Homo sapiens: one gene and its partner. The protein of the gene in region 1 purifies or fractionates together with the protein of each later gene. This does not show direct contact. Each region holds a gene or a part of one and is shown in the gene's direction. Other genes may lie near its edges.

Region 1 (3,743 bases):
CAGTAATATAAATTAGTTGGAGCTAAGAATTTGCCAGTGATTCCCCATGGCAATCAAACTTTCTTAATTATTAATCTAGACTAGCACTGTCCAAAAGAAATATAATGTGAGCCATTATGTATTTAAAAAACTCTAGAAGCTGCTTTAAAAGGAACAAGTAAAATTAATTTAATAATATTATACTTATCCCAATATATCCAAAATATCAATTTCAACATTCAGTCAACAGGAAAGCTGAGATATTTTACATTTCGGAGGTACTAATTCTTGAAATCCAGTGCGCATTTTACACTTACAGCACATCTAATTTCAGCCTAGCTACATACATTCCGAGTGTTCAATCAGTAGCCACAAGTAGCCAGTACCTGTCAGGTACAGCACAGATTTAGACTTTGAGCAACTTGAAAGCAGGTTATCCTCTTCTCTCCAGGGCCTCCAGAGTAGGCATGCAGTGAATATTTTTGAAAGGTAAATCAGAAAGATAAAAGGATCCTGATTCTTACAAAGATGTTCTGCAACTACTCTCTTTAAACTCTCCAGCCTCATAAAAAGTGGAATGGGGATCATGCTTATTCCTGCATATCAAACCAATGACTATGGGGCTTCCTGACTCCCAGAAAGCCTGAATCATCCGAAATGTTGACTCATGAACCTAAGGTGACTGAAATGTAACGTGAACCAAATTAGCTTTCCAAGGCATCTTTGTATTTCCACTTTCCTGTCTCCCCGCTGCCTCTCTCTTTGGGTGACTCACTCTCTTACCATGTAAGAGTCCAGCAGGCAAGGCCCCAAACTCTCTTTGGAAGAAGAGCAGACTTTCAAATGGTCGGCCCCAGATCCCTAGTTAATTCAGCACAGCTGTTTTCCTCCCAATTTCGGGGGCTGCGGTTTAGACTGAGTGAGCCTAACTGTCAAAAAACAATTTTTTTCTTATTTTAGGGTGGTAGTAGTAGTGATGTAGTTTGGAACTTTGAGTGAACAAATAATCTTTTATTTCAAAAATCTTTAAAAATCCTTAGGGCCCACTTCCCAGTCCCGCTAATACCTTTCTCCAGTCGGGTTTCTTCCTTTCCCGGGAGGAAAGTTTCCACTCTCAGTTCCCCCAGGATAACGCCCTTCCGGTGGCGCGCCAGAAACCGCGCCGACCCCTCCCAGCCAGCAGCCCGCCCCCTTTCCCAGTGCTCTAACGACATACGGACGCCAGCTGCGGGCAAGGCCAAGACCCCACCCCAACTCACGGTTACCCAAAGTGGGGGTGGAGCTCCCAGCTCTCAGCCCCGCCCATTGAACGCAATCCCAGCCGGTAAGAGAGAGGAAGTGCCGTAGTCCCCACCCACTTTCATCTCCTTCCCTTTCTGTTGGCCCGGCTGGTCGCCTATCTTCTCGATCCTGTAGCCGATTGGCTCTCTCCCTCCCGCGCCAGTCCCTGCCCTCCCCTGGGGAGGGTGAGTCACGCCAAACTGGGCGGAGAGTCCGCTGGCCTCACTCCTAGCTCATCTGGGCGGCGGCGGCAAGTGGGGACAGGGCGGGTGGCGCATCACCGGCGCGGAGGCAGGAGGAGCAGTCTCATTGTTCCGGGAGCCGTCACCACAGTAGGTCCCTCGGCTCAGTCGGCCCAGCCCCTCTCAGTCCTCCCCAACCCCCACAACCGCCCGCGGCTCTGAGACGCGGCCCCGGCGGCGGCGGCAGCAGCTGCAGCATCATCTCCACCCTCCAGCCATGGAAGACCTGGACCAGTCTCCTCTGGTCTCGTCCTCGGACAGCCCACCCCGGCCGCAGCCCGCGTTCAAGTACCAGTTCGTGAGGGAGCCCGAGGACGAGGAGGAAGAAGAGGAGGAGGAAGAGGAGGACGAGGACGAAGACCTGGAGGAGCTGGAGGTGCTGGAGAGGAAGCCCGCCGCCGGGCTGTCCGCGGCCCCAGTGCCCACCGCCCCTGCCGCCGGCGCGCCCCTGATGGACTTCGGAAATGACTTCGTGCCGCCGGCGCCCCGGGGACCCCTGCCGGCCGCTCCCCCCGTCGCCCCGGAGCGGCAGCCGTCTTGGGACCCGAGCCCGGTGTCGTCGACCGTGCCCGCGCCATCCCCGCTGTCTGCTGCCGCAGTCTCGCCCTCCAAGCTCCCTGAGGACGACGAGCCTCCGGCCCGGCCTCCCCCTCCTCCCCCGGCCAGCGTGAGCCCCCAGGCAGAGCCCGTGTGGACCCCGCCAGCCCCGGCTCCCGCCGCGCCCCCCTCCACCCCGGCCGCGCCCAAGCGCAGGGGCTCCTCGGGCTCAGTGGGTGAGTGCCGCGACCTCTCGCTTCGCGCCGCCCCTCGCGCCCCTCCCTCTTTTGTGTGCAGCCCCAGATGCTTTGGGCTGGTCCCTCCTCTCCGCCCCGAGGGCGCTTTGTCTGCGGACTTCGGGGCGATGGCGCCCCGTCTGGTTGGAAGCGCGGGGAGAAGGGTGGGGCGGCCCTTGGAGCCCGGGTTTGTTCTTATTGTCCGTCTTGGTTTCGGGGAACACGTGCACCGCTCCCGGCTCCCACTTTCACCCTGTGTGATGCCCAGCGTACGGATTCTCGGAAGTTAGGCACCCACCCGTAGTAGGAGCCGGGTATATACCCGAGAGCCAGGGTTGTGGATTTATCGGGTTGGTTGGGCTTCGAGGTGAGGAAGGAAAGGCCTTGGCACCCAGATATTTTTAGGAGGTGCTTTTGTCTACCCGTCTGGGTTGCTCCTTTGGAAAAGGTGCAGTTTTGCTGCGGGTCTGTTGGCCTGCATTCTGCCCCGGGCTCCCTCCTCACCTCCTGGCTGGCGTGGGTGGCCCCTTTGCGCTTCCCCTCCCCCTCCTCCTGTGCTCGTGGGGAGCTGGCCGAGTGGAAAACGTCCACATTGACCCAACCGCAGTGAAGGGAGAGCGCCTCCAGTGGTGTGGTGCGTGGAGAAATGGGAAGGAGAGAGTTCTGGTAAAGTCCTGCCACCGCCCAGCTCCCCGGGGTGTGATGTGGACTGCTCCCCACCAGCTAAACCGAGCCAGGGAAAGGGGATCTAGGCATTGTGTTCGAGGGGGCGTAGTTCTGCCGGGGTTTCAGCTGCAGGGTCGGAGGAATTGCTGTTAGTGTGGACTTGGCCCAGCCTCTTAGTGCATCATAATTGAATCTTACAGAAAAAAATAAAAGGCAAAATGGTTGACATTCCTAAAGAAGGGAAAACCTGTGGATTCCTTGCCAGGAATTGGCTAATTGAACTCGTGGCAGATTTACCATGAGACACAGAGAAATGTTTTGAGACAGACATTTTCATATATATTGGTTAGAAATACTGTTTTTCAGAAGGATATGTTTTAGGTTACAGAATCAAAATACGGTCACGTGCCTCATAACGACGTTTAGGTCAAGGACAGACCGCATTTGCAACGGTGGCTCCATAAGGTTGTAATGGAGCTGAAAAATTCCTGCCGCCTAGCGACGTCTTGATCTTGACCCTGTGTAGGCCTAGGGTAATGCGTTTGTATCTTAGTTTTTAACAAAAGTTAAAAAAAAAATAGAAAAAAGCTTATAGAATAAGAATATAAAATTTCTTTTCTATAGCTTTAAAATGTGTTTGTGTTTTAAGTTAAACGTTATTACAAAAGAGCCAAAAAGTTTATAAAATAGAAAAGATACAGTAAGCTAAGGTTGATTTATTATTGAAAAAATATATCTAAAGATAAATTTAGTGTAGCCTAACCGTAGAGTGTCTGTAAGTTGTACAGTAGTACATGGTAAT
Region 2 (3,743 bases), on another chromosome or scaffold:
TGCAGTGAGCCGCGATTGCAGTGAGCCTGGCAACAGAGCAAGACTCCGTCTCAAAAAAGAAAAACCAACCAACCAACCAAACAAACAAAAAAAACAGTAGGTCAGGTGGGTGGGTAGGCAGACGGGCATGGTGGCTCATGCCTGTAATCCCAGTGCTCCGGGAGGCTGTGGTGGGAGGATGGCTTGAGCTGCAGTGAGCTGTGACTGCATCACTACACTCCAGCCTGGGCATCAGAGCGAGATCTCTTCTCTGGGTAAATAAACCCAGTGAGTCACTCCCTCAGCTACCTAGATCCTGCAGGGCTCCCCATTCTCCTTGACATTCCAGTTCTTTCCACCCGGGGCTCCACATTGCCTCCCCAACGTCACATCACACCCCAGCTCGGCTGTATCAGCCCCTCTAACCTTGCCCATCAGGCCTCTGTTCACCTGTCTCCACCTCCAGGCCCTGCCAGCAAGGCGCTTCTCCCTTTCTCTGCCTGGTCTGTGCCACGTTGCCTGAACACACAGCCCACCCCATCCCCTCAGAGCACCAGGAGCTCACATCTGGGTCCAAGACCCTACCAGGAGAGCAAGGCAAGAGAATGACGCTAAGGCCCAGCATGAGCCTACACAGAGAAGGTGCCCACTGTCTGTCAAATTCATCCATTCAACAAGTATTTAGGCTGCTCATCGTGGCTCACGCTTATAATCCCAGCACTTTGGGAGGCCAAGGTGGGAGGATGGCTTGAACCCAGGAGTTCCGGACCAGCCTGGGCAACATAGTGAAACCCGTCTCTACAAAAAAATGCAAAAATGGCCGGGCGCGGTAGTTCCCACCTGTAATCCCGGCACTTTGGGAAGCCGAGGCAGGTGGATCACCTGAGGTCGGAAGTTCGAGACCAGCCTCACCAACATGTTGAAACACCGTCTCTACTAAAAATACAAAATTAGGCCGGGCGCGGTGGCTCACGCCTGTAATCCCAGCACTTTGGGAGGCCGAGGCGGGCGGATCACGAGGTCAGGAGATCGAGACCATCCTCGCTAACACGGTGAAACCCCGTCCCTACTGAAAATACAAAAAATTAGCCGGGCGCGGTGGGGTGCCTGTAGTGCCAGCTACTCGGGAGGCTGAGAATGGCGTGAACCCTGGAGGCGGAGCTTGCATTGAGCCGAAATGGCGCCACTGCATTCCAGCCTGGGGGACAGGGCGAGACTCTGTCTCAAAAAAAAAAAAAAAAAAAAAAAAAAAAAGATTAGCTGGTTAGCCAGATGTGGTGGCACATGCCTGTAATTTCGGGAGGCTGAGGCAGGAGGATCTGTTGAACCCTGGAGGCGGAGTTTGCGGTGAGCCGAGATCGCGTCAATGCATACCAGCCTGGGCAACAAGAGCGAAACTGCGTCTCAAAAAAAAAAACAATTAGCCGGACGTGGTGGCATGTGCCCAGCTACTCAGGAGGTTGAGGCAGGAGGAACACTTGAGCCTGGGAGGTTGAGGCTAAAGTGAGCTGTGATCAGGCTCCTGCATTCCAGTCTGGGCAAGAGTGAGACCCTGCTTTACCAAAAAAAAAAAAAAAAAAAAAGGTATTTATTGAGCACCTACTATATGCTAGGCTCTGTGTGGCTAGGCTCTGGGGATGTACGGGACTTCAAACCAGATAGGGCCTTGCCCTCCGGGAGCGCACAGTCCACTGGGATGGGGTGGGAGTGGGGGAAACACGCAGGAGGCCTTCAGCTAAGTGGGACAAAGATCACTCCACAGTGGGACAATGGCGTGGGGAGCGGAGGCGCCGCCGGCGAGGAGGCTCCGGGCGGGCCGTGCTGAGACCGCAGCATTTAACCCGGCCCGAGGCAGCTGGGAACAGTGCTGCCCAGGGAACTACAAATTCAAAGGCCCGGGGAAGGGCCGCGCTGAGCAGCTGCAGGCACAGGCCCAGGCCAGGCCAGGCAGGACCGGCCCCTGCAGTCTCGGAGGCCGGGGGAAGATTCCGCCTCTTATTCTCGCTCCCATCCGGGGGGCGCCATCTTGCTTCCTTTATGGCGGCGAACGAGGCCCAGAGAGGCCACCGTCCCGCGCGGGGCAGCACAGCGGCGGGAGAGCTCGGAGCGCAGAGGGCCGCATCCCCAGTTCCCAGTCTCCATCCCCGGCAGAAGCAGGCGGAGCGACCCGGTCCCCGCCCCCGCGCCCGCCCCGCCCCGCGCGCCCGCCTGGCCCCTCGGCCCCGCCCCTGCTCCGGAGTGACGCGGGCCCGGGCGCGACGGTCTCGGCGGCGGCGGCGGCGGCGACAGAGCGAGCGCGGCGCGGGGCCACCATGGGGGCCCAGCTCAGCACGGTAGGCGGGGAGGGGGCGCCGGGGCCGCGGGGCGTCGCGAGGGACTGGGACCCGGCGGCGAGGGGGCGGGCTGGCCTGCGGGAGGTGACGCGGGACCCGGGCCGCACCCGGCCGCACCCACTTCGCCCGCCCAGCCCGCCGCGCCCCACCCCACCCCACAAGGGCCTGGGCGAGCTACGTGGTGACCGCTACTTACGCCCTGGCAGTCTGCAGCGGGGACCCAGCCCTCCTGCCCGGGGGGCGCGCCAGAGCCCAGCACCCGGGGGCACCTGGGCCCTGCCCTGGCCGCCGTGGGGCCTTGGCTGCTGGAGGGACCCGTGGTTGTGAGCGTGTGTGCCGCTGAGTGTGAGTGTGTGAGCGAGCGTGTGAATGGCTTGAGAGTGAATGTGTGTGTGAGTGTGACCGTGGGTGTGAAGGGCGGGCATGGAAACGTGTGATGGGGTGTGTGTGTGTGTACGGGAGTATGTGAATGGGCGATGTCACTGACTGCGACTGAACGTGTGTGTGTGTGCGATGTCACTATGTCAGAGGGTTTTGCACGTTTAGCAACAAGGAACAGAACCCGGATGACACGGGGGCATCCTCCCAATGCTCAGTGGGCCAGGCTCCCATCAAGGCCAGGCTCCCACTGACCCTGCAAGCTGTGCTGGGGACCTCACACTTTGCGGTGTCAGTGCTGTTTGCCCCATTTCACAGATGGGGAAATGCAAACTAGTCTTGGCCACCGTCCCACAACGCTGCCGCCGGAAGGAGCCTGCTCCATGGGGTTTCAAAGTCCACTCTGCTGCTGTCACTCCTGGGCTGGCCTAGAGCCACCTTCCCTTCCCCCCAGGCCACCTCCTCTCCCCAGTTTCTCAAAAGTTGACCATGGTGAGGCTGGAGGCTTGAGTCTGTGTGGACATGTGGAGGCTGCGGCTGCAGAGGGCAGCTCTCCTGTCAACTGTGACCCGCTAGGCGTGGGGAGGCTGGCACAGGAGGAATCAGCCCAGTGCTCCTCCACCTCCACCTCTACCTCTATGCCTGGCATCTGCCACTTGGAGGGCACCTGGGTCCTCCCTCCTTGGGGAGGACCTGGAGTCTCCTCCTTGGGGATCCAGGCAAAAGGCCTCTTGGCTTGGGTGGTTGCTAAGGAAAGTGTGGCCCAACCCAGAACTTCGGGATGTTCAGACCCCAGGCAACCTTGGCCAGGGTGAACCTGTGGGCATCACCCCAACCTCCATGCAACACCCGGCCCATTTTTCCCCAGAAAGCATCTGCCTCCTTTATTGTTGAAATGTCCTGCCTGTGTCTCTAAAGCTTCCCCTGGTCTCCACCCAACCCTTCCCTGCTGTTTTTGGTGGTGTTCCATACCTTCCAGCTGGTGGTTGGATTTATGGCCACGTCCCCTGCACCTGGCTGCTCCATACATTTCTTTTTTCTTTTTTCTTTTTT

Evidence for each region. Proteins that work in one complex are often made in the same cells at the same time.
Region 2: the proteins of RTN4 (region 1) and CYB5R3 purify together in Homo sapiens (affinity purification with mass spectrometry; 5 studies listed by BioGRID and IntAct, with this or other methods). This does not show direct contact.

Annotation. Positions count from the first base shown.
Region 1 is NC_000002.12:55,048,277-55,052,019, reverse strand, and holds the start of RTN4 (reticulon-4), read left to right. Parts: upstream 1-1,568; 5' UTR 1,569-1,719; coding exon 1,720-2,275; intron 2,276-2,328; exon of another isoform or gene 2,329-2,462; intron 2,463-2,863; exon of another isoform or gene 2,864-2,941; intron 2,942-3,353; exon of another isoform or gene 3,354-3,474; intron 3,475-3,743. UniProt on the Homo sapiens protein: Required to induce the formation and stabilization of endoplasmic reticulum (ER) tubules. They regulate membrane morphogenesis in the ER by promoting tubular ER production.
Region 2 is NC_000022.11:42,647,864-42,651,606, reverse strand, and holds the start of CYB5R3 (NADH-cytochrome b5 reductase 3), read left to right. Parts: upstream 1-2,214; 5' UTR 2,215-2,291; coding exon 2,292-2,312; intron 2,313-3,743. UniProt on the Homo sapiens protein: Catalyzes the reduction of two molecules of cytochrome b5 using NADH as the electron donor.